7 linked regions of the Homo sapiens genome follow. The protein of the gene in region 1 purifies or fractionates together with the protein of each later gene. This does not show direct contact. Each region holds a gene or a part of one and is shown in the gene's direction. Other genes may lie near its edges. The genes, in order: UBA1, CIAPIN1, ARHGAP1, MZT2A, GRPEL1, NMD3 and IARS1.

What was found.
Region 2: the proteins of UBA1 (region 1) and CIAPIN1 fractionate together in Homo sapiens (co-fractionation; 2 studies listed by BioGRID). This does not show direct contact.
Region 3: the proteins of UBA1 (region 1) and ARHGAP1 fractionate together in Homo sapiens (co-fractionation; 2 studies listed by BioGRID). This does not show direct contact.
Region 4: the proteins of UBA1 (region 1) and MZT2A purify together in Homo sapiens (co-immunoprecipitation; one large-scale study listed by IntAct). This does not show direct contact.
Region 5: the proteins of UBA1 (region 1) and GRPEL1 fractionate together in Homo sapiens (co-fractionation; one large-scale study listed by BioGRID). This does not show direct contact.
Region 6: the proteins of UBA1 (region 1) and NMD3 fractionate together in Homo sapiens (co-fractionation; 2 studies listed by BioGRID). This does not show direct contact.
Region 7: the proteins of UBA1 (region 1) and IARS1 fractionate together in Homo sapiens (co-fractionation; 2 studies listed by BioGRID). This does not show direct contact.

The regions. Positions count from the first base shown.
Region 1 is NC_000023.11:47,196,829-47,200,328, forward strand, and holds part of UBA1 (ubiquitin-like modifier-activating enzyme 1), read left to right. Parts: exon of another isoform or gene 1-162; coding exon of another isoform or gene 163-196; exon of another isoform or gene 197-1,374; coding exon of another isoform or gene 1,375-1,527; intron 1,528-1,562; exon of another isoform or gene 1,563-1,628; intron 1,629-1,974; coding exon 1,975-2,091; intron 2,092-2,219; coding exon 2,220-2,278; intron 2,279-2,380; coding exon 2,381-2,549; intron 2,550-2,651; coding exon 2,652-2,786; intron 2,787-3,500. UniProt on the Homo sapiens protein: Catalyzes the first step in ubiquitin conjugation to mark cellular proteins for degradation through the ubiquitin-proteasome system.
Region 2 is NC_000016.10:57,430,386-57,433,885, reverse strand, and holds part of CIAPIN1 (anamorsin), read left to right. Parts: intron 1-1,325; coding exon 1,326-1,399; intron 1,400-2,619; coding exon 2,620-2,735; intron 2,736-3,500. UniProt on the Homo sapiens protein: Component of the cytosolic iron-sulfur (Fe-S) protein assembly (CIA) machinery required for the maturation of extramitochondrial Fe-S proteins.
Region 3 is NC_000011.10:46,694,120-46,697,619, reverse strand, and holds part of ARHGAP1 (rho GTPase-activating protein 1), read left to right. Parts: intron 1-1,463; 5' UTR 1,464-1,512; coding exon 1,513-1,645; intron 1,646-1,864; coding exon 1,865-1,960; intron 1,961-3,500. UniProt on the Homo sapiens protein: GTPase activator for the Rho, Rac and Cdc42 proteins, converting them to the putatively inactive GDP-bound state. Cdc42 seems to be the preferred substrate.
Region 4 is NC_000002.12:131,489,598-131,493,702, reverse strand, and holds the start of MZT2A (mitotic-spindle organizing protein 2A), read left to right. Parts: upstream 1-1,305; 5' UTR 1,306-1,326; coding exon 1,327-1,496; intron 1,497-1,678; coding exon 1,679-1,827; intron 1,828-2,466; exon of another isoform or gene 2,467-2,543; intron 2,544-2,810; coding exon of another isoform or gene 2,811-2,990; intron 2,991-4,105. UniProt on the Homo sapiens protein: Required for the recruitment and the assembly of the gamma-tubulin ring complex (gTuRC) at the centrosome.
Region 5 is NC_000004.12:7,058,395-7,061,729, reverse strand, and holds the end of GRPEL1 (grpE protein homolog 1, mitochondrial precursor), read left to right. Parts: intron 1-521; coding exon 522-868; 3' UTR 869-2,835; downstream 2,836-3,335. UniProt on the Homo sapiens protein: Essential component of the PAM complex, a complex required for the translocation of transit peptide-containing proteins from the inner membrane into the mitochondrial matrix in an ATP-dependent manner.
Region 6 is NC_000003.12:161,224,311-161,227,810, forward strand, and holds part of NMD3 (60S ribosomal export protein NMD3), read left to right. Parts: intron 1-619; coding exon 620-754; intron 755-2,936; coding exon 2,937-3,033; intron 3,034-3,500. UniProt on the Homo sapiens protein: Acts as an adapter for the XPO1/CRM1-mediated export of the 60S ribosomal subunit.
Region 7 is NC_000009.12:92,241,698-92,245,197, reverse strand, and holds part of IARS1 (isoleucine--tRNA ligase, cytoplasmic), read left to right. Parts: intron 1-126; coding exon 127-239; intron 240-1,886; coding exon 1,887-1,982; intron 1,983-2,867; coding exon 2,868-3,044; intron 3,045-3,500. UniProt on the Homo sapiens protein: Catalyzes the specific attachment of an amino acid to its cognate tRNA in a 2 step reaction: the amino acid (AA) is first activated by ATP to form AA-AMP and then transferred to the acceptor end of the tRNA.

The DNA.
Region 1 (3,500 bases):
AATGACAAGGCAAGGAGATAACTAAGTAATAGAGGCCACTACACGTGCCCAGGGAGGAACTCACATCCTCAGGTCAGTGAGTTCTGACCACAGACCTTGGCTTCTTTAACCCTGCCAGCAGCCCCTTGAAGACAGTTTCATTTGTCCCAGCTTTTGGAGAAAATGAGGCTCAGAGGAAATGAGATCTCTACCCCAGGTCAGTCAGAGAGTCAGTAAATGGAAAATATGGTTCACCTTTGTCTCTACTAACTCACCAAGCCTCTTGCTACCCAGGTTGGCTCTTAGCATTCTAAGCAATTCACCTGGCTATCTCAGGGGCTCCAGCCAGCCTGCTGCCTCCCCTCATCTCCCATTCCTTAGCCCTGTGGACTGGGCCCTGAGCCCAGGGGCATTTGGCAAACAGTCCCCCACCAGCTGCATGCCTCTGGGCGAGTGAATGGGGTTCTCTAAGCCTTTCTTTTCCCATTTGTGATTTGGGCATAGGGTTATCTGGGTCATGGGGATTGTTAAGATTAGACAAAGCCCTTTCCTCTTTGATTGACACACAGTATGCTCTTGGTAGATAGTAGGGAGCTCTTGTCATTGTGGTTGGTGCTAGTGACAAGTGCCAAGATGGAATCTTAGGTACATTGGGATACTTAGTGTCATAAAAGTCTCAGTGTGGGAGGACTTGTGTGAACAGAAGACTCAGTGCCTAGAGGAGCACTTGGGGTGAGGGGAAGTGACGCTGGGTCCTCCCATCTCCAGCATGTGGACCCAGTCACCCCCACCACCAGATTTCACTTCCACAGCAGGCTTTATTGTTCTGTCTCTGGGACCTAGCAGGTGACCCTGGGCAAGTTACTTCTCATTTGTCCGGCAAGGACACTAAACTCTGCCTTGCTGGGTCAGGGTCATGGAGGGGATGAAACGTGATAACACGAGGAAGCAGCCTGGGCTTCAGAGTCAGCAGATCCTGGTCTGGTCCCAGCTCAGTGTGTGGGAACCTTGGTCACCGAACGTCCCTGAGTGAATTTTTTTCCATCACTTTAAAGTTGGGGGTATTATTGATAGCAGTCCAAACCCCACAGGAGTACCCTGAGGACAGAGTGAGACGAGGTTTAGAGAAGTGCTTACTATGGCATCTGGCACAAGGAGGACTCCTGATCAATCTAATACTCATTTATCATTGTGGTTAACCTGTTTAAGGGACTCCGCATGCAGATGAGGCTTGGGATGTGTTTGTTTTCTATCTTTTTGCAACCTCTTTTATTGGTCTGTGTCGGTTTTCCCCTCCCAAAGCTGGGGGCAGGGTTGGGCTTTATAAAACTTGAGCCCCTCTGGGGACTGGGTTCTCAGCAAGTTACCGCTCCTGCCATCATGCCACCCTGATGGATGTCCAAGCCTCACTTCCCTCCTGCACTCCCCGCTCCCGCCGCCATCCCTGGGATTAAGGGAGAGGAGAATGGCTGCTTGTTACTGCCTACCTACTCTGTGCCAGGTTCTATGCTCTGTGTTATTTATCATCTCGATAACCCCGTGGGGAAGGTAAGTGGTATTATCACCCCTGTTTCACAGGTGAGAAAACTGAGGCCTGTGGCGGTTAATTATTACTGTTAGTGCGTGGCAGGCTCAAGATTTGAAACCAGGTCTGTCCTGAATCCACATCCTTCCCCTGACCTCGACACAAGTACATTCTTGTCATTCCTTTCACTCCAGGATTGGAGTCTCTCCCTCATTATGCTGGGCTGGGAAGAAGCAAATGGCTTAGTGGTCAGCAGTGTGGATTTGCAAATCAGACCACCTGGGTTCAGATCTTAGGTCTGACAGCTGTGTTACCCTGGGCAAGTCCTCACCTTTCTGTGCCTGTCCCCTCTTTGCTGTAAAATGGGGGTACTAATACTTAAGTCTTCCCTTCCCCCACAGTTGCTACTAACAAACAGAAAAACGGTACCCATGTGCTCCAGGGTCACCTCTGACCTTTTTTTCCTCCAGATGTCCAGCTCGCCGCTGTCCAAGAAACGTCGCGTGTCCGGGCCTGATCCAAAGCCGGGTTCTAACTGCTCCCCTGCCCAGTCCGTGTTGTCCGAAGTGCCCTCGGTGCCAACCAACGTGAGTGTCCTCTCCGTGGAGACTGGCAGACGAGGTGGTGGGTGGGAAAGTCTTTTGTATCACTGTCTGTCTATCCATGCTCCACTCCTGTGTGTCTCCCTAAACTTGTTCTTTTCCTCTATTCCTAGGGAATGGCCAAGAACGGCAGTGAAGCAGACATAGACGAGGGCCTTTACTCCCGGCAGCTGTAAGTGGGGCCAAGGCCGGGCTGAGGGGTGTGGAATGGGACATTGAGAGGATAAGGTTGGGTGGGGCAGGCCCTGACCTAGAGTACCCCCTAACCTGGCAGGTATGTGTTGGGCCATGAGGCAATGAAGCGGCTCCAGACATCCAGTGTCCTGGTATCAGGCCTGCGGGGCCTGGGCGTGGAGATCGCTAAGAACATCATCCTTGGTGGGGTCAAGGCTGTTACCCTACATGACCAGGGCACTGCCCAGTGGGCTGATCTTTCCTCCCAGGTACCTCTTCCTAGCACCCTTCCCCCTTTCCCCCTTCCCGAGGCACCACTGTTCCCGGTGCCACAGCCATTTCATCTTTTTCCCTACTGCACACCCTTACAGTTCTACCTGCGGGAGGAGGACATCGGTAAAAACCGGGCCGAGGTATCACAGCCCCGCCTCGCTGAGCTCAACAGCTATGTGCCTGTCACTGCCTACACTGGACCCCTCGTTGAGGACTTCCTTAGTGGTTTCCAGGTATCTTGGGGGTACTACCCAGCCTTCTGCCCAGTTTTCTCAGAGCCCATCTCTGGTTTATTCAGTAGTGTTCAATATTGATTTAATGGGTCGGCCTGAATGTCAGGTTTTGTGCTGGGGGACTAGAGTATGCAGGCAGCAGTTAGCCCCTGGCCCTGCCTTTTCTTTTCTTCTTTTTTTTTTTTTGAGACGGAGTCTTGCTCTGTCGCCCAAGCTAGAGTGCAGTGGCGCGATCTCGGCTCACTGCAAGCTACACCTCCTGGGTTCACGCCATTCTCCTGCCTCAGCCTCCCGAGTAGCTGGGACTACAGGCGCCTGCCACCACGCCCGGCTAATTTTTTTTTGTATTTTTAGTAGAGACGGGGTTTCACTGTGTTAGCCAGGGTGGTCTCGATCTCCTGACCTTGTGATCCGCCCGCCTCCGCCTCCCAAAGTGCTGGGATTACAGGTGTGAGCCACCGCACCCGGCCTGGCCCCGCCTTTTCAAGTGGGGAAGATGTGTACAGACAGTACAGCATAGTGGTTGTGGGCACAGACTGTAGAGCCATACTGCCTTGCTGCAGGCCTCCAGCCTTGGTAGTGTGACTTCAAGCAGGTTGTTTCATCTCCTGTACCTTTGTTTTCCTGTTTGTAGTCAGTGCGTGGTAGCAGCACTGACTTCATGGACTTTTTGTGAGGGTTAAACACGTGGAATTGCAGCTGGCATATAAGGAC
Region 2 (3,500 bases), on another chromosome or scaffold:
GGCATATTAGGATCCAAAACTGAAATAATACATAGGTATTATCTAGTTCAGCTCCTTCTTCTGCACCAGAAGATACCGAGGCCTCCTAATTTTACAGGACTGAGTCACACAGTTTAATTAATGAGGTCCTTCCAGGTCCCAGAATTAACGTTTCTCCTCAGAAGACCTCACAGTGTAGTGGTAATGGTGTATGAGAGTGCCCTGTTCCTGTTCTCATGTGCTTTTTTCCCCATGCCAGGAAAATCAGCTGTTCTTACTTTGAGGATGCTAAGACACTTATAAAACTATATTTCTTCTGACTAGAAAATTGTGTACAAGCACACGCGTGCACGCACGCGCACGCACACACACACACACACACAGCTCCATCCTCATCCTTCCTATCCCTATTTTTAAATGCCTGAATTGACCCAGCTGTGAGGTATGCAGACATTAACAGATATTTACTGGTACATTCCCACTTGTACGGTTTTGACTGTCTAACCTAAATCTTCAAGAAATCCTTTGGAATCTAACCTTTCGATTCATGGTTCCAGAATGGGTAGGAATAGCTTAGAACAGTTGGCCTTGTGGAAGGTATGAGCATCCAGCTGTGACAATGATCACTAGAGGGTACTCTTACCCCAAGGGCCTGCGAGGATTTGCCCACACTGCATCCGAGCCTCAGCTCTCTGCCTCTTCCTTGCATTCTCCTGACTAGACAGAGAACCAGGAAGTGTGAGGTTTGTCTGCCACTGATGGTGTTACCTTGCCACCAGCAGCTCTAGAGCCTATTTTCTTGTATGTAGCAGGTTTACATGAGGCTAAAGCTCTGCTATTTTTGAAGGTTTTGACACATTTCTCATTTAATCCTCAAAACACCTGCAGTAACATAGGAAGTACAATTTAACTTCATGTTATAGAATGGAAACTAAGGTATCGAGGAGGAAGCAATATGGAATGGAGGTTAAAAGCATCAGACAGGCTTTGCAGCCTGTGGAACCAGCCTAAGTGTCTAAACCTGTTTCCTCAGCGGTAAAAGTAGGATGACAGATAGTTACCTCATAAGGTTGTCAGCAGAATTAAGTTAGATAATGTATATAAGTGCTTAATATGGTGCCTGGTGCAAAGCAAGAGCTTAGCAAATGGTGACTTCTGTAACTATCAGCAAGTGGTTGGCCCAAGGTCAGACCTCTCAGAGGGGTAGAGCTGGACTGTGAACCCACATCTTCTGCCTCCCAGGCCAGTGTGTTCTCTTCTACACAGCAGGAAGCATTTATGTATGTTTGTAATTAATAGTTTCTGACTGTGTTTATGGAGTTTTTTCTTTTATTGCTTGGACTCAGTGAAACCTGCTGTGGACCCTGCTGCTGCCAAGCTGTGGACCCTCTCAGCCAACGATATGGAGGACGACAGCATGGTGAGCTGGCAGCATTGTCACTTGATTGCTTTCTTTCAGGCCCCAGTTTGGGTGTGAACAGCTATAGTGACCTTTCTGGACTTGTAGGTGTGAACGTATTTAAAGCCCAGATTTGTGACTATGCCTGTCACATCTTTGATTTAGAAGGAAACTCCATGTTGGTGGCTTTTTTTTTGGAGACAGTCTCGCTCTCTTGCCCAAGCTGGAGTGCAATGGCACAATCTCGGCTTACTGCAATCTCTGCTCCCGGGTTCAAGCGATTCTCATGTTTCAGCCTCCCAAGTAGCTATGATTACAGGCATGTGCCACCACACCTGGCCAATTTTTGCGTTTTTAGCAGAGACGGGGTTTCACCATGTTGGCCAGACTGGTCGCAAAACTCCTGACCTCAAGTGATCTGCCCGCCTCGGCCTCCCAAAGTGCTGGGATTACAGGTGTGAGCCACTGCGCTTGGCCATGTTGGTGGCATTTTAAATTTTTTAGCATCTCTTTTTCCCCACATAATTTCTTGTTCTCACTTCATACGATATGTTGAAAACTCTTGTGGGCATGTGTAAACCTGAAAAGATTTTGTCAGCTTAAATAGTTTTATTGGCACCTTTGGGCAAGTTGCTGACTGTTCCATGCTTTAAAAAGCACTATTTTCTATCTTTGGCCATGTCTGTAATAAAGTTCTTCATTTCTACACCTCTACTATTGAAGTTAGAGTAGTGAGCAAAATAAGTGAGGTTCATGCTCTCATAGGGTTTACAGACTAAGTGTCTACACATTTACAAAGAATTACATAAAGGTATATATAATTATTTGATTTTTATCTGGGATTATGTAAAAGATATTTTATTCCCTTTTTCACGTGACTCTTCATAAACACTTCTCTCTTTCTCTGTTCTGCCTGTTCCCTCCCTTCTCCCCACTCCTGCCCCCAACCCCCAACATGTGTATATTCTCTACACATTGCTGGCCAGTCATACAGCTTTTTCTCATGTAAATTTGTTTCTAATTCCTTTGCATCCTAGTGCATCTTCTGTGGATGTAGTTTAACTCACCGTTGGCCTCTTGAGCATGTGGTCAGGTTGAACATGATGATCAACCAAAAGGAGGACAGGGTGGACACCTTCTTTACCCTGGACTCCAAGTTTCCTCTCGAAGCCTGCAGTCACTTTAGCTTTTCATTAGCAGAGACCACGACTGTATCACTCATTGCTTTGAACACTCTCCAGGATCTCATTGACTCAGATGAGCTGCTGGATCCAGAAGATTTGAAGAAGCCAGATCCAGCTTCCCTGCGGGCTGCTTCTTGTGGGGAAGGGAAAAAGAGGAAGGCCTGTAAGAACTGGTGAGTGCTGGGGTGACTGGAGCCTGCCATGCTGCCTCCAGTGGCTTCATGCTGAAGACATCGCGGTGCTGTACTATTTTTAGAACATACATTTTCCAGGCTGGGCAACACAGGGAGACCATCTCTGCAAATAATTAAAAAAAAAAAAAAATTAGCCAGGCATGGTGGTATGTACCTGTGGTCCCAGCTACTTGGGAGGCAAAGGCAGGAGGATCACTTGAGCCTGGGAGGTCGAGGCTGCAGTGAGCCGTAATTGTGCCATGTATCTAATTTCACTCTCCCTCAAAACCCTACCAGTAAGCCACTATTGTGCCACTGCACTCCAGCATGGGCATCAGAGCGAGACCTTGGTGTCTTCACATTTGTTTTTATAAATGGATGGGAAGGATTGTAGAAAGTTAATCAGTGATGTTCATCATCAGCGTTAATCATCAGTGTTTTTTAAATGTAAAAGCTGCCAGCATTTACAAATCAGGAAATTTCAAGTGAAAACACAGATTTTTTTCCCTTCTGTTCTTGAATTTGGAAAATATGGCAATCTGGGTCCACTTTCCCCAGCATGATAACCAGCTGAAGCTTGAGTAGTGGCTGCCCTCTGTAGACAGAGCACACACGGTACTTCCCTCATCCTCCTCCCACTTCTGTCTCCCTCAGCAGCCTCTCATATTGCTGCTGTCTGCCTGGCCTATAGGCTTCTGAGTTATGACACTGGTGTGAAGAGAAAAGGCTTAAAGCACATTTTGGCACTGTTAGGATTTGGGATTT
Region 3 (3,500 bases), on another chromosome or scaffold:
GCCCTGGTGATAGGGTGGCTGTTGCTAGGCACAGGGAGAGGGCTCACCATCCAGGGCCCTTGGCTGTGATGTGATGTGTGCAGGAGGTTGTCAAGTGGCCTCAGAGCCCAGAGTCTGTGGCTCTGGGATGGCAGCTCTCCCCCTCTTCTTCCTGCCCACCCCCAGGGCTTGTCTGCTCTCCTTATCTGCCCTGCTGATTCTCTGACCATATATGTCAGTTTTGGGGCTCCAGGAATGCAGCTGGACATGGAGCAGCCTCTTCCCTGGGGTTAGACTGAATAGGTTGAACTAAAAACTGCCCTCCCTCATGTGGGGAGCTTGTGGCAGGAGGGGGAGTTGCTGCCCATTAGGGCTGAGGGCAGAGGTGCCTACCCCCAGGCTGCATGCGGCTGCAGCCTTCTGGCCAGATTCCAGACCTACAGAAACCCAGCTTGGTGGTCGAGTCTGCCTTGTGCCTGCCGGAGCTGCTGTTCTGCTGGTGACCTCCTCATCTCAGCACCCCAGACATCACGAGCATCCCCCTTTCCCATCTGCGCCCTCCAATCCTTAGGGCCGTCAACCTTTCCACCTTGAAACTGGTGTCAGGAGCACCCTGCAGAGTAAGAGTGGGCTTGGACGCCCCTAGGAGCCTGCAGACTGTCTGCAATGACTGGCAGGCGATTCCACATCCCCTGCTGCTAGTTCCTGTCCTGGAGCAAGCCCAGCTGGGCCCCTCAGCCATAGCTTTTATTTTTTTATTTTTATTTTTTTGGGATGGAGTCTTGCCCTGTCGCCTAGGCTGGAAGTGCAATGGCACAATCTCGGCTCACTGCAACCTCCGCCTCCTGGGTTCAAGTGATTCTCCTGCCTCAGCTTCCTGAGTAGCTGGGATTACAGATGCCTGCCACCACGCCCAGCTAGTTTTTGTATTTTTAGTAGAGATGGGGTTTCACCATGCTGGCCAGGCTAGTCTTGAACTCCTGACCTCAGGTGATCCGCCTGCCTCGGCCTCCCAAAGTGCTGGGATTACAGGCGTGAGCCACGGTGCCCAGCATGTTCCTTAGATTCTTACAACATTTCTACCCCTGTAACTGCTAGAGCCTGGGAGGCTTCTGTGTCCAGGTCTCCTGAGGCGAGGGGCGTGGACCTCTGCCCTCTACAGCTGGGACTGCATCACTGAGCCAGCTGGGTGGCGGGCGGCACAGGACCTGGCACAGCTCTTCCCTCCCCAGCTGCAGGGCCTGGAGGGAGGCGCTGAGCTGTGCCATCCTCTGCCCCAGCTGCCTTTTCTGGCAACACGCCTGAGCCACGGAGCCAGGAGAACCCAGAGCTACGTGGAGCTCTTGGCGGGGATGAGGAGTGTTGAGGAATAGGGACAGGGAGCCTGGGAGAGGGAATGGTGGGGGCAGGAGGGCACGCGGTGGAGGTCGCAGAAGGTGAAAAGAGCAGGTCACTGACCTGCCACCTGTCTTCCTCTCTCCCAGGTTTCTCTTAAGGTTCTGCAGGGCAAGGCTGTCTGGGACAGGCTTGGCCATGGATCCGCTCTCAGAGCTGCAGGATGATCTGACCTTGGATGACACCAGCGAGGCTCTGAACCAGCTGAAGCTGGCCTCCATCGATGAGAAGAACTGGCCCTCGGATGAAATGCCTGACTTCCCCAAGTCAGGTGGGCTTGTGTCTGGTCTCAGGCAGCTACAGGCGCTTTAGAGGGGGAAGCACTCCTTCTGCTGAAGGGAGACGCCAGGAGGGCAGGATGGGGCAGACCAGTCCCAGGTTTGGGCTGGGAGCATGGGCCTTACTGGGGGAAGGGCCAGACAGCATGCCTGTGGGGCAGAGCATGGTGCCAGCCCCCTGGCTTGTCCCCTGACCCTGCTGTGTTCCTCAGATGACTCCAAAAGCAGCTCCCCGGAACTTGTCACACACCTGAAGTGGGATGACCCATACTATGACATCGCCCGGCACCAGATCGTGGAGGTGGCAGGTAAGCACACCCAACACTATTTTCCTAACCCTCAGAGCTCCTGGCCTCAGGAAGTCAGCCCTTCACACCACAGGGGAAGGGCCTCTCTGCAGTCTGACCGCTGGCCCTGGTGCTCCTGGCATGTGGGGAGCCATGTGGCCTAGTGGCTTTGAAGTCAGAAAGCCCTGGGTTTGATCTCCAGCTCTGCTCTTTGAACTCTAATTTCTTCCTTGTGGGTTACAATAATGAATGCATGTCAGGGCCTAGCCCAGAGCCAGAACACAGTTGGCCTTGAATAAGTAGCCTTCCCTTCCCCTCGTTCTATTGCCCTCCTACCCCTCCACCCTAATGTTGGCTTTTCCACCCTATCAGTTACTGGGGAGGATGAGGAGTGCCAGTCCTTCCTGGGAAATTGTAGCCCTAGGGAAGTCTGGAATGGGCAGAGCCTCTTTCCAAAAATGGGGAGGGGGCACATGGCTCCCTGGAGCACCAGATTCCTGGCAGATATGCTGCCCTGCTGAGAGTGGGTACAGAGCCCCGCTTAGGTCTCTGTCTCAGGGAGCTCCCTCCCTCCTGTTCATAAGGGGGGACCCAGAAGAAACCAGGAGCCAGGGAGTCAGGCTGATGAGGTGGTTGCTGCCCTTAGGGCCCCACTTTAGAAGGAGCAGCTGGAATCTAGGATCCTTTATCTTTTCCCTAACATTTGTCCATCCTTGCTGGTGAGGCCAGGCATTCATAAGCAGGGTGGCAGCATGGCCCTGCTCTGAGGCATTGGCGTGGGCAAGGAGAACCTGGCAGACACCGGCCCTGGAAGAAGCCTGTCTGGCTATGGGGGTGCTGGGCTTGGAAAGGGAGGGGGCAGTTGAGAGGATTGCCCCGAACGTCAAAGGTGTTTCCATGGCGTTTGTATTCTTGGCGCCTGCCCTGATCTGGGTTGAGGGCCTTGGCTCTGGCCTCATTCACCCCCTGCAGAAGCAAAGCTGAGAGTTTTTTCCCCAGTCTGGTCCTGAATTGGGCACGGGAAAGTCACCTTGAAGGTTCTGAACTTGACTGGAGTCTGGGGGGTACCTGATGTGAAGGAGTCTCTGTCCTGACATCATCCTGGCCTGTTTGGTCAAGGCAGAGCTGGGGGAGCCTGCCCCTCCCCACCTCCGTGGGTGACACCTCCTTCCCCACAACCCCCGCACAGAGCTGCAATTTGTTTCTATTTCCCTAGACTACGATGAGCCTGAGGGGGCCCAGCCAGGTAGGTGTCCGTCCTGGCTCGCTGTGCTTGTCCTCTTTGGACTGCAACCTCTGGGGCTGTGGATCAGGAAGGGCTCTCGGTGGAGGCCAGATGGGGCTAGCTTAATTGCAGTCTCACCCTGGGGAGCTGGGAGTTGGTGGTGCCTGGGAGTCGGAAATAGCAGAAGATTTATGGGAGGTAGGATGGGGGTGGGGGAGGCTGTGTGGGGACACACCCAGGCCCCAAAGGGAAAGGAGCTTGCGGGAGGGTCTGGCCTTGGGCAATGGCCTCTGAGTGGTGGCTCAGGGACCTTCTGGGTGATGGTGTCCCCATGGA
Region 4 (4,105 bases), on another chromosome or scaffold:
ACCCGTTTGTTTTTTTTGTTTCGTTTTGTTTTGTTTTTCTGACAGCGACAGCCCTTGGGCAACGCTAATCATTCCAAGCAAATTCTGTCATGCCAAGACCTCCCTTAACAGCACGCGCCCACTTGTTTCCAACTCTCCTGCGAATTGGGCTTCGGGAGCCTCCGAAACCAAGGCTCGGAGATGTGGAGCGCACAGGGGAAGGGTCGAGCTGGGACCCACACCCGGCTCTTCCTCCCACACCGCCTGTTGAGCCCAAGGCTCAATTTCAACACAAAGCTCTCCTTCCCTCAATTCCTTCAACGACGGGTAACCTTCAACGAACACCTACCGGACCAGAACAGAGTGTACGAGCGGCGCGGGAAGGTGGCACAAAGGCATGGCCCAGAGGAGTGGCAGGAAGACTCAGCCGGGGCCCTCCACTCCCCAGCCTGCCCGGCCTGGGCAGAGCCGCCGGGCCGCCCGAGTCCTGGGGCTCGCGGAGGAACGGAGATGGCCTCCGCAGGGGCTCGCGGAAGCCCCCAGGGCGTCGGACCGTCTCACGCGCGCGTCCCGCGCCACTCACCTGTGGGACCCATAGCGTCGCCCGCTTCAGAGGTGGAAGCCGCCATTCCGCCACCGCGCCAAAACGTCGTCATCAAGCTGCGCGCAGAGCCACGCCCCGCGGCCGGGCGGGAAAAGCGCTTCTACCTCTTTGGGCCGTTACCTCAAAAGGTACGTGCGCAAAGCGAAGAAGGCCGGCCGGCCGGCCAGGGAGGGGAAATGGCGAGGCAGGAGTGCGGGGGGAGGGAGTGGTCCTTAGCTGAATGCGCCTGCGTTGTGGCGGCCTCTGGCGCCCCAAGGTAGGGCTCACGCACTTTCTCCCTAGCAAGGAATGCGCGTGCGCGTAAGCAGGGTTGTTGATTAGTGCCCCCCACCCCCCCCGAAGAGCGACCCCTAGTGGTGCACCGGTGCGGACCAGAAAATTGCACGCTTTCTTGAAACAGGTATTGACTGAGCGCCCAATGTATGCCTGGCACTGGGCTGGGTGCTGCCACCTAAGCGAGCACGACCAATGCAAGTCTATCAGGGACGCCCTGACCGCCAAGCAGCTGGCCCCTGCAGTCCGCCATGCCACTCCCGACGCCTAGCGCGCCGCTCAGCACACCGTGAGCGCCCACTAACTGTTGGGCTCCAATGACGCCGAGGAGGCGGCCCCGTCCCCGCGCTCCCGCCGCTCCCGCCAGGGCAGCCCGGGAGGCCAGACGCTGGCGCTGCAGGGAGAGGGCGGTGGGCGCATCCGCTAGGGGGCGCGGCGGGGCGGGGCGCACCTTTCGGCGGGCCTCGCGGATGGCGGCGCAGGGCGTAGGGCCTGGGCCGGGGTCGGCGGCGCCCCCGGGGCTGGAGGCGGCCCGGCAGAAGCTGGCGCTGCGGCGCAAGAAGGTGCTGAGCACCGAGGAGATGGAGCTGTACGAGCTGGCTCAGGCGGCGGGCGGCGGTATCGACCCCGACGTGTTCAAGTGAGCGGGGCGGGTGGGGGCCGCATGCTCGCCAGACACCCCCGACCTCTGCTCTCCGGGTACGCCCGGCCCGCTGGTCGGGAGGAGCCCCCGCTGCCCCCGCCCCCGTCCTTGTCCGGTCTTCAGGGAGGTGGCCGCGCCGGGCGGAGAGGGCTCACCGGCCCCGCGTCTGTCCCCGCCAGGATCCTGGTGGACCTGCTGAAGCTGAACGTGGCCCCCCTCGCCGTCTTCCAGATGCTCAAGTCCATGTGTGCCGGGCAGAGGCTAGCGAGCGAGCCCCAGGACCCTGCGGCCGTGTCTCTGCCCACGTCGAGCGTGCCCGAGACCCGAGGTCAGAGCTGGGCCCGCTGTCCCTGCCCCAGTGGCGGGGGTGGCGGGCGGGGAGGGGGCAGGCGCGGCACAGCGGCGGCGTGGCCCTGAGTGGCCAGGCCTGTCTGTCGGTCGGTCTAGGCCCAGCACCTGCAGGGCCCATCCGTGGGCTCTGCTCCTGGGCTTCGCTGCCAGCCTTAGGAGGCACGTCCAGGTCAGGTGGACGCAGAGTGCGTGCCCCAGGGTGGTCCAGGCTGGGTAGGGCTCCTCCGCTTAGCTCCTCCCCACCTCTTCACTCAGGCCTTCATCCTACAAAGTCGGGAATCAAGACGGTTTGGGGCTGGGCGCCGTGGCTCACGCCTATAATCTTTGGGACCCCACGGCGGGAGGATCCTTTGAGGCCATGAGTTTGAGACCAGTCTGGGTGACAGGGTGAGATCCTGTCTCTAAATGTTTTTCAAAAGACAGTCTCGATCTCTGTCCTGTGGTATACAGCATCCAGGGAAGTGCCCAGGGAGCAGGGCAGGCAGACGTCTTCCTGCCTTTACCCCACCTGGGCCCAGTTCCTGCCTCTGATGATTGCAGGAAGAGAGTTAGACGCGGAACTCCCAGGGTGCAGAGGCCTGCGGGGTCTGAAGGGCCTCCTCCCTCTCCAGTGTGGTGACTGGGCTGAGGAGATGCTGGGACTGAGAGTGTCATGGTGGAGCCTCCGTCCCTGCTCATCCTCTCCGCATGTTGCTTCTGCTCCCGATGGCTCTCTCTGAAATGCAGCACAACCTCCCAGGCCAATGGAAGGAGGCCCAGAGCTGGCTCCCTGCCTGGAAGCAGGAGGAGACCCTCACAGGCATCATGAGAAGGCGTGGAAAGCAGGCTGCCTTCATGGGGGAAGTGCCAGGGCCTGGGCACCCACGCCCGCTGACCCAAGAGGGCCCGGGCACCTGCGTGCTGGCCTCTTCACTGACCCTCGCTCTGTCTGCTCTCTTTGTGTCTCTCTCTGACCTCCAGAGGCCTCCTTTCTCTCTGCCAGGAACAGTAGCCCCCCTGCAAGGCCCTCGTTTTCCTCCAGCCCGCAGCCTGCGGCCTCTCTGGTTATGCTCCACAGCCCAGCTGCCACACACTCACCTCTCTCTCCAGGCCCCCCGGGTTCCCTCCGCCTCTCTTGCTGCCTGTTCTCTCCTTTTGCAGGTTGCGTTTATTGGCTTATCTCTGGGGGTTGGTGCTCTTCCTTGTTTTCATGGAAACTGCATGGCCCCAAGAGGCCCAAGCAGCTTTGAGCTGCAAGGGCAGGATCATGCAGGCCACCGCTGCCCTGCCGCTTAGCCACAGGGCACTATTTCTGACTCGGTTTATTAGAGACATGGTGTGGCAGTCTCTAGACCCCACAGTCGGGCTGGCATCCGGGGACAGGACCAACATCCCCACACCCCAGAGGCGAACTAGTGGTGAGTGTAAAGAGCCCCTCTCCAGGGGAAGACAGCCAGCCGGGTGCAGTGTGCTCTGCTGGAGAGCACAGCCCCAGGCGTGACAAACGCCTCGGCCTCTTAGAAGTTGTCCCCTACCTGGACAGGAAGTCTGGAGGCTGAAACAGAGACTCCCACCTTCCCAGAGTCTGCCAGGCAGTGCCACACAGATGCCATGTGCTGGTCCCATGGCCACACTCCAGCACTCAGCCCCCTTGCCCGCCTCACTCCTGAGTTGGGACACTTTCCAGGTGTCACCAGGTGTGATCAGGGGCCTGTGAGAGCCCAGGGGTCTTTGGTCGCGCCTCCTGCATGAGCCTCCTGACAGCGGCCACCTCACTGCCACCCAGAGCTCAGGCCCAAGAGAGGGTGGAGAGGGCCTGAAGGACAGGCCTGGAGTAGGGGTGTATGGACTGCAGGCTGAGATGAGCAATTGAGGGGCAAGTGTCCAGCAGGAGGGAGAAACTGGGAACAGAGTTCTTGTCACTCCAGGAGATGTTGCTGCTCACTTAGCACTCACTCAGGGCTCTGGGTGCCAGGCCTAGCTCTCAGGGCAGAGGGCGTGGCAGGGAAGTGAGATGATCACACTCAGTCCAGTGAGAGGCAGTGAGGAAAACCACCAGTGAGACCAGTGTGCTGGCTCACACCTGTAATCCCAGCACTTCGGGAAGTCAAGGCAGGTGGATTCCTTGAGCTCAGGAGTTCAAGATCAGCCTGGGCAACATAGCAAGACCCCATCTCTACAAAAAATACAAAAACTAGCCAGGCAGGGCCCGGCGCGGTGGCTCACGCCTGTAATCCCAGCACTTTGGGAGGCTGAGGCGGGCGGATCTCGAGCTC
Region 5 (3,335 bases), on another chromosome or scaffold:
ATACTGTGGCCTGTTTCTTGGTATTCCGCCTCTCTTTGTGGTAATGTGCTTTGTTGGTTCTTACCCTTTCCGACCTGTAAATGCCTGGGCTCTTGGGACTCAGTACCAGACCTCTTCTCTCCCCTTGCTGTGCTCCCTGGGTGACTTACATACTCTTACGGGCTTAGTGGCATCCACACACAAGTCTCAGCTTCAAACTCGGATCTTCCGAGTTCCAGTCCCCTAAATCTTACTGCTTGCTTGACATCTGGGCTTGGATGTCTCAAGGGTATTTTCCCCTCTACTGCACTCCTTTCTTCACATTTTAGTGAATTCTAAATTTAGTAAATTCTGGGTCTCATCCCACAAGTAGCTTTTGAGAGTTTTGTGTTGTTTTTTAAAGTTATTGAGCCATTGGAATTCTGAGGCGATTGATTTGACAAGTTACTAAATAGCCTCCACATCAGGTCAGCAGTGCTCAGTTTGGAATTGCCCTGTGCGGTTGGTATGGAGTGCAAATGATCTTCTTTAACTTCATCCAGGCATTCAAGCCTTCTGCAAGGACTTGTTGGAGGTGGCAGACGTTCTGGAGAAGGCAACACAGTGTGTTCCAAAAGAAGAAATTAAAGACGATAACCCTCACCTGAAGAACCTCTATGAGGGGCTGGTCATGACTGAAGTCCAGATCCAGAAGGTGTTCACAAAGCATGGCTTGCTCAAGTTGAACCCTGTCGGAGCCAAGTTCGACCCTTATGAACATGAGGCCTTGTTCCACACACCGGTTGAGGGGAAGGAGCCAGGCACAGTGGCCCTAGTTAGCAAAGTGGGGTACAAGCTGCATGGGCGCACTCTGAGACCCGCCCTGGTGGGGGTGGTGAAGGAAGCTTAGCTGCTGTTGATGGGGTGGGTGTTTTTAAACTCACTTGATGTAACTCTCAAGGCTGGTTCATTGTTTCTCATCTATGAGTACGTGTGACCTTTTCCCAAACCTTATTGGAAACCTTAAGTAACCAGTGGCTAAACAGAAAAGCCGGTTGCCCAACTGCATTAATGAACTCTAATTCGGGAGTCTGTTCCCTTTTAGTGCCACGCGTTGAATAGTTCCACATACTTTCAGAAGAGCTCAGCAGGGCCCTGCCTGGTCTCCCGAGCATCATGAGTAACGTGTCTGCTCAGACTCTGCTGACACCAAAGTATTTTAAACAAATAAAAGGTCTTGGGGAATTCTGTTTGGCTACCTGGGCACGCCAGTCTGCACCATGTGTCCCTGCGGCGCATGAGTGACTGGCGTATTTAGCCCGTCACATTTCATTCGCTGAAGGAAAGGCAAGAGAGTTGAAACATTTTTCTTACTTAAAAAAAATGATCTTTGTGAAGAACATAGTGAGTTCGTTTGTCTTCAGTCAACAGCGGCTGAAACTGACCACTGAGAAATGGGTGTGGGCACTGACAGTTCTCCCCCATTATTTGGCCAGGAATTGAGCTTGGCTTGGCAAAGTTCCTTTTACCCTGTTCTGTTCATCTAAATGCAGACATATTTAAATCATATTCAACTAGTTACTAATGACCTCAAGTTGTATTCCCTGGCAAAATGGACTTTCTCAAAATAGGACTGCACGCTTGGTGTACTTTAAATGTTAATGTTTAATTTAAAATTTTTATTTAAGAGGATTAAAGCCCTAATGTTTATTTTCCTACTTTCTGAAAACAATTTTGTGTCCTCTCATGGAGATCCTTGCCGCTGAGGCAAGCATGGCTTAGCCTTCCCATTCTCTACTCCAGCCCAGAAGCTGTCAGCTTGACACGTGCGTGCGTGCACATTCACGTACACACATATACAGGCTTCTACACAGAAAGGGAGAGCCACACTCCCCCAGTGCAGCTGCAGCCCGTCCGGTAAGAATACGAAACACCCAGGAGCCACAGCAAGGGCACAGGATTTGCAAAATCATCTTGCCAAAGGGCTGTTCCTCATTTACACGGTCATCCAGGGCTTAGAAAAAGGCTGAATGATTGGCGTCTGTTACAAAAAAGAGAAAAGAACCTTTCGCTGCCTTTGCTTCTAGAATGGAAGATACTTGTGAAAGCCATTTGCTGCACAGGAAAGATGGGGCAGTTTATTTCACTTCTAATTTTAAAAGACGCAAGTAATGGTCCCATAATACTTCATCTTGGGATACCATTCCCAAACATGTTCCACCTTTAAGATGCCTTAAGTTAATTTGGTCAGAAACAACTAAAGGCAGCATCGTGTATTGAAGAAAACATGACTGGGAGCTCCAGCGCTGCCTGTTTTCACGCTGTGGGGTTGTGAGTGCATCATCACCCCTGGAGCTCCCGAGTTAAATGGAGGCTAAGAAAAGTAATTTATCAACTCATTTCTGTGAATGTTTGCAGTCTCCTACCGTCTCAACTACAGCTGCAGTTGCTAAAAAGCACTTAACTCGTAACCTAGAGGCAATATAGCTTAAGTAGCAAAATATTTTTTTACAGTAAGCTTCAGTCATCCATAGTCACTATAAGTTGGTTATCATCTGAAATGCTTAGAACCAGAATTGTTTCAAACTTGGGGGGTTTTCGGATTTTGGAATATAGTCAAGCATGGCTTAACCACAGGGATGTGTTCTGAGAAATGCGCTGTCAGGCAGTTTTTCCTGTGAACACCATGTGTACCTACATGGACCTAAAAAACAGGTGGTGGAGCCTCCTCCACACCTAGGCTATATGGTGTATGTAGCCTGTTGCTCTAGACTGGAGGGCACGTTACTGTACTGATACTGTAGGCAACTGTTAACACAATGGTATCTGTGTATCTGAACATAACATAGTAAAGGTACAGTGCAAACTGTGTTCTAATATGTGGCCCCTCATTGACTGAAAAGAGATTCTCTGCTTGACTATTTGCATTGTATTTGCTGGTTAAGTATCCCCAATCCCAAAATCCAAAATGCTCTAAATGAGCATCTCCTTTGAGCACCATGTAGGCACTCAGAAAGTTTCAGATTTTGCAGCCTTTCAGATTTGGGGATACTCAACCTGTAATAGGAAAATGTCTTTTAATTATGTGCATATTTACAGTAGGAATTAAAGATTTGTTTAGCTACCTTCTAGTAGTTACTGGATTTAGCATAACTGCAGCATGAGTGAAGTGTCACGTGTGAACAGTGAAAACCAGAACTGGAAGTCTCAGAGGCATCTGAAAAGTCGGCCTGGCTTCCTGAAAGACTCAGACCCATTTGGCTTTCTCTGGCTGTACTGCTGCTTTGAGGGAGGAGAGCACCTGGCACGAAAGGGTCTCTGCTTAAGAGAAAGCAACTTTAGGTCGGGTGCAGTGGCTCACGCCTGTAATCCCAGCA
Region 6 (3,500 bases), on another chromosome or scaffold:
AGAATAGAACATTTCTGTCGTGGCATGAAATTCTGTTGGACAGTACTGACCTTCTAGAACCTTTAGGACATCGGCCTTATATTGAGGATTTTTAGAATTATAGCCATTTTTGGTGTTTTTGCCCCTGTATTACAGGGTTATTCTTTATCTACTGCATCTTTGAAGATTGCTTTGTTTCTTTTTTTTGTTTCTTTTTTTTGAGACATTGTCTTGGTCTGTCACCCAGGCTGGAGTGCAGTGGCGTGATCTGGCTCACTGCAACTTCCACCTCCTGGGTTTGATATGCATGCCTCAGCCTCCCAAGTAGCTGGGATTACAGGCGTGCGCCACCATGCCTGGCTAATTTTTGTATTTTTAGTAGAGATGGGGTTTCACCATGTTGGCGAGGCTGGTCTTGAACTCCTTATCTCAGGTGATCTACCCGCCTCAGCCTCCCAAAGTGCTGGAATTACAGGTGTGAGCCACTGGCTGGCCCAGGTTGCTTTGTTTCTGTTATTTTTTTGAAAAGGGCAAAGATGCTGTGGCCTAACTTGAAGGCTTTTGTTTGTTTGGCATCTAAAAAAAAATTTAGTGTATTTTAAAAATCTAATGTGAAAAATTTATCCTTTATTTATTAAAGCTTGTGCTGTGAGTGTGGTGTTCCGATAAGTCCAAATCCTGCCAATATTTGTGTGGCCTGTTTGCGAAGTAAAGTGGACATCAGCCAAGGTATTCCGAAACAAGTCTCGATTTCGTTCTGCAAACAATGTCAAAGGTACAGTGCGGTACAATTTTGCTCTTTTTAAAGTTGGAATTTACATTTAGAGAACCACCGAGATATGCTGAGATTACACGAAGGTATATGGAGTAAAGTGCATGCAATTAAGGTTTAAATTTTCTGTTGGTGTCGCCAAAGATTTTAGAATTTGCAATTTTATAGTGTACTTTTCTAGTGTGTCCTTCTAATCTGGTAAAGATAGTGTAAATGTATTTGAATCTGTTCTTCTGTTAAAGGATCTAATAGATTTGATGTATATAGTTAATAGGAGTTGATGTTTGTAAGGGTGAGAGCAGATTATTGAGGACATATTGTTATTATGAGGTTTTTTTTTCTTTAGTTATTAGAAGCCATGTATGATAAAAAGCTTATGTTTGGAGTAATTTAGTAATATGTTTTAAAAACTCATAACATTCACGTGTAATTAAAATAACTATTGTTGATGGAAAAGAAGCTCAATAAATTATATCTGGAATGGTCTGAAATAAAGATTGGATTTGAAGGAAGAAGACTTCTTCTGAATGTTAATGTTTCATTCCTCTTGATTTTCTTTGTCAGCATAAACAACTTACATCTATTAGGCCATTGAGTAACACAAAACTGCCTAATGAGTGTAAAAGTGTATGCCTGTTATTTCCAAAATGGATTAAGACGCTAACTTTTTGAGTGTGTATCTCTAGAGGGGTGGTTCATGGACTCCTTTGAGAATTTGAAAACTGTATCTCTTCCCCAAAATATTTACATACATGTATATATATGTGTGTGTGTGTGTATATATGTAAAAATATATATGTGTGTGTGTGTATATATACATATATATACACAAACACATGAAACTGTGTACTGTTTCAGGGAGTTTACAGTGTATAAGCTTAGCAAGTGTGAGGCTTAATCTTTTATAAATATTTGCTATTAAAAGCCTGGTGGAGTTAGAAAAGTACTGATAAAGAACTAAACAGACTTAGTTTGTCTTGGCTTCCTCACAAACTAGCTGTTTGAAACTCTTAGCTGTTTATCATCTCTGGGCCTCAATTTCCTCATCAGAATGAAGGGTTTTATTAGGTGATATGTGAAGCCCTTTCTAACTCTAAACGTTTACTCATAGGCCAGGCTTGGTGGCTCACGCCTGTAATCCAAGCACTTGAGGAGGCTGAGGCGGGTGGATCACCTGAGGTCAGGAGTTCGAGACCAGACTGGCCAACATGGTGAAACCCTGTCTCTACTAAAAATACAAAAATTAGCCAGGCGTGGTGGGGCACGCATGTAATCCTAGCTACTCGAGAGGCAGGAGAATCGCTTGAACCCGAGAGGCAGAGGTTGCAGTGAGCCGAGATCATACACTGCACTCCATCCTGGGGGATGGAGCGAGACTCTGTCTCAAAAGAAAAAAGGAAAAAAAAATACGAAATAAATATGTACTTATAAACAAAGGGAGACCTGTGTAATGTTTTTGATTGAACCTTGAAAAGTGAAAGTCAAAACTTTCTGTTATGTAACAAGTATGGCAAAAAGACATTCACATAACATGTTTGGAAGTATTTTATATTTAGCAAGCATTTATTGAACACCTACTATAAGATGTATGTGGCATAGTGCTAAGTCCTGGGTAGGCAGGACTAAAAACCTTAAAGCACATATGTAAGAGATTTAAGTTTTGTTTTAGTCTGGTTTTACCCAAGATTTTAAATGTTGTTTTACAATTTACAATTTGAAAAGGACTTGAAATGTAGATGAATAGACTGAACTATTGCTGATTTATAGTGTTGTGAGGTACTAATGTACCTTTTTTTTGTGAAAAATAAGCAGTTCTCAGGCATTTTAGAAGTACATAATAAACCATTTTAATGCCATTTTGAGATGATTCTCACCTGTTTTTCAGAGCATAGCTTTAAGAGACTCTTGGACATTTTAGTGGTGATTTGGTGATTAAAGTAATAAGATCACTTTAGTAGGTTATTTCAGATTGACTTTCTCAGTCAGAATTTTACCTTTTTAATTAAAGCTGCTAGTCTAGTTGAAAGTTTTGGAACCATTAAAATATGTTTGAGTTAAGTGCTTCATATCATCCTTGGGTTTTATTATGCCTGGTTAATAATTTGGGTTATATCTGTGTATTCAGATGGAAATTTCTGTGTTTCCTGACAGATGTTGGATTTCAGTATGTTATCTTCTCTTTTAGGTATTTTCAACCACCAGGAACTTGGATACAGTGTGCTTTAGAATCCAGGGAACTTCTTGCTTTGTGCTTGAAAAAAATCAAAGCCCCTCTGAGTAAGGTAAGTTAAACAGCTAAAATCAGTATTCATAGGTATGTTTTCATTAAAGGTCTCATTTTCAGAAAATTCTTGTGAGTAGGTTTTTCAAAAGGAATTTTTTTTTTTTTTTTTTTTTTTGAGGTGGGGTCTTGAACTGTCACCTGGGCTAGGCTAGAGTACAATGGTGTGATCTCGGCTCACTGCAACCTCTGCCTCCCGGGTTCACACGATTCTCCTGCCTCAGCCTCCCAAGTAGCTGGGATTATAGGCGCACACCACCACATCTGGCTAATTTTTTGTATTTTTAGTAGAGACAGGGTTTCACTATGTTGGCCAGATTGGTCTCGAACTCCTGACCTCGTGATCTGCCTGCCTCGGCCTCCCAAAGTGCTGGGATTACAGGCGTGAGCCACCATGCTGGCCTCGAAAGTAACTATTAAATGTTACTATTGTTGCCAGTAGCACCCCACTACAAACACTTTTTAAAG
Region 7 (3,500 bases), on another chromosome or scaffold:
GATCTCTTGAAGCCTCTGTGGCTTTGTTATTGTGAAATTTTAATCAAGAAGGGGCATAATACACGGGTAGTGGGGCAGCTTGAAGAGGAGGGGAAGCTGATTAACAGTGTAGCTGCTTCTCCATAGGGACCATTGTTGTGGAAGGCCATGAATTGCACGATGAAGACATCCGCCTCATGTACACCTTTGATCAGGCCACAGGTGGGACTGCGCAATTTGAAGCACACTCAGATGCTCAGGTATTTTTCTGTTTCCTAGAACATTTCTTTACCAAGAGATGAGAGCATAAGAGGAGAAAGTATTTGCCTGTGCCTTTCCTGATAATGTTGACAGCTTGTCTCAGGGTAAAATAAACCAGTTACTTGGTTTAGATTGGCTTTATTAAACTAATATATTATTATGCCCTTAACATATGCATTTGTTTAGTGAATACATAAGTAAGCATTTTGTGATTTCTACATGTCAGTCATTGTCCCAAGTGTGGGGTTGCACAAAAATGAACCCTTCAAGGAATGAGTCAGTCAAGGACACCTGAAATTAAGCCAGTTCTTAGTATTCTACCTGATAAGTTATCTGGTAGAAATAAGTACACAGAGGGCTCCTATCCAAAAATAGGTGTAGGGTGAAAAGTGGTCAGGGAACACTCTTTTCAAGAGAATATACAAACTGTTTTAGATTCCAGGATCAATATTTTTTGCCATATTGGAGAAGAGACTATCTCTTTGCAGTCCTGACCAGACATCCCCAGTCAGCATAGTTGTAAGATCTCGCATGTGGGTTTGGGGATATTGCAGGGGTCCCTCTGTGCTTAGCATACCATGTGCAGGGGAAGGTAGAGCAGCACCTCCATGAAAGGAAGGTCGACCTCCTCAGTCCTTTACCCAGGCGCTTAAGTTAGATGTGTACAGAACTCTACGTGGGAAGACAGTGGCAAGGAGTCGGAGGTATCGTAGCTGGGAAAGAAGGCAGGGAGGAGGTTTCTAAACACTGACAGTGGGCAGTTCTTCCTCATTACAGCAGATGTTAGGGGCCTGAAAAGTTGTCCACCTTACAAAAGTGTCATGTGATGCTTCTGAGTTTCTTGACATGGCTTACATGTTGTAGTGGCCCTGCACTGACTGGAATTTTGAGTTTATCATGCATTTCACTACCTCTGATGCCTTTATGAAGTGAGTCATTTCTTAACTTCTCTGTTTACTCAAAGGTAAATGAGATGATGCCTAATGTACAAGTCTTTTGTAGAGTATATTTTACTCTGCAACATGCTGTGTAACAGAAGCGATAGTGTCATTATTGCTACATCATAATCAGCAACCTTCAGAATAGATGAGATAGAAACATTAACCTTAGCAAAAATATGGCAGTTTAAGTCACAGAAAGTTTTGTGGTCCATTGTAGAATTTGTCTTGAGTCGTTCTGACAAACCTGAAGATCACAGGGGTCATGGTATAGGAAAGTCACTTGGAGTTGACTGCGCTGAGGCCGTTGATCCACTTGTTGTGGCCTGAAAAGCTGTGCTGCTCCAAGGGCTTCATGATTATTGATCTTACTTATTAGAAGAGTTGATATTACTTCTTAGATGGCCAAAAAGCAGAGTCATGTGAGGGACTCTGATAAGAGGTGGTCCCAGGGCATCTCCTGTGAGCAGCACCCTACAAAAAAACAAGAAACAAAAACCTGCACACCTTTCTCCAGAGACAGAGGACTAGCTGATTATGAAGAAGTACCTGAATGATAAACTAGATTAATTTTATTGCTTTTGCTCATTTGTGTGAAAAAATAGTGCTGCATTATAGACTCTCCAGATTTAAATAACATTTTGCTGAGTTGGGAAGAAGTGTTTCTCCTTATTTGATTGTCATGGTGTGCACTGTTCATTCCCACAGGCTTTGGTCCTCTTAGATGTCACTCCTGACCAGTCAATGGTAGATGAAGGAATGGCTCGGGAAGTCATCAATCGCATACAGAAACTTCGCAAAAAGGTTAGTTTGTCAGTTAAGAATAAGCTACTGTTTTGGCTTTTTGTTTGTTTTGGTTGTTTGGAGAAGATAGGAGAGGCAGGTAATATAAACCATAGTGATCAATGCATAACAATCACTAATCCATAGTCCATTTGGAATGTATTCTGCAGAAAAGTCACTCCTCTTCCTCTCCCCACGTGTTCACTCCCAAGTCGTAGCTTTCAGCCAGCCTGTGCCTTTTCCCATCCTTTTTTTTAGCTCCGTTGGGCTTCTACAGAATATCCCCTGTGACTGGAGCAGAAGGTAATCAGAGCTGATAGTGTCTTTGCAGAAGGGCAGAGGTGCAGTCAGCATAGACAGGCTTCTAGCTTAGGGGAGATTCCCGGATTTGGACAGAGTTGGGTAGTTTTTCCTTATTAGAGAGCTGAGGAATATGCAGGGAGCTCATCCTGGAGCGCAGAGGGGCTGCAAAGCCCCTGCTAGTGAGAGAATCAGGAATTTCTTGCCCTGTAGAGGGCAGTGACAGCTAACATACATCTTTCTTCCCAGACGGTTCAAGGTCTGAGGAGGCTGTTCCAGCAGATGAGTGGGTGCTTGTGACCTCTGAATCAGTTCAGAGCTTTGTAAGTGGGTTCTAAGTAATTTCTTGGTTTCAACATTCATGAGGTACTGATTGTTCTAGGAAAAGAAACATGCCCTATCCCCCAAAGAGTGGTGAAAAAGACACAAAGTTAATCATGTACTGAGTGCAGTTAGTCTTACGGATCACCCAGCAGGGAGGGAAGGGTGACTGCCCTTCTGTGATGATTCAGCATGGGATCTGTAGCCCTTGTTCAACAGTACCTTCCTTCAGTTCTGATTAATAGAATGTACTTCCCTTTTAAATTTTTCTGTGTGTGTTTTCAGTGCAATCTGGTTCCAACTGATGAAATCACAGTGTACTATAAAGCAAAGTCTGAAGGAACATATCTGAATAGTGTTATTGAAAGCCACACAGAGTTCATATTTACCACCATAAAGGCTCCCTTGAAACCATATCCAGTTTCTCCATCGGATAAAGTCCTTATTCAAGAAAAAACACAGGTGAGTCCTGAGTTCCACTGAACTACTACTAAAGGGTTTCAGATTAGGTTTGACTTTGTGTACTCACGTGTTGATATTCTGTCCCACAGTAGAGATCGGCACAGCACTCTGTCTTGAAGTATTGCTCTGGACAGTAGTGGGTAGAGTCAGAGAGTGGAAGCTCAGAAAAGATGGAGCAGGGAGGGAAGATGGAACTGTTTTCACAACAGTTCTCTTGAGGAAGGTAGCCAGGAGGGTACATGAGCTTTGCCCGGAAATAAAATGGCCTGTTTTTTCTAAAACTAGAAAAGGCAGTGTGTGGATTCTGGTAATTATCATTAAAAGTAAATAGCAATTGGCTTGAAAAACATTTAACTCTTCTGGTAGTGGGTTCTCCATAAAAGTACAGTACAAAAAAAGAAAGATTACAATAGCATTTCTGTTGTTACATCTAGGAATTTTAGATATACTTATGAA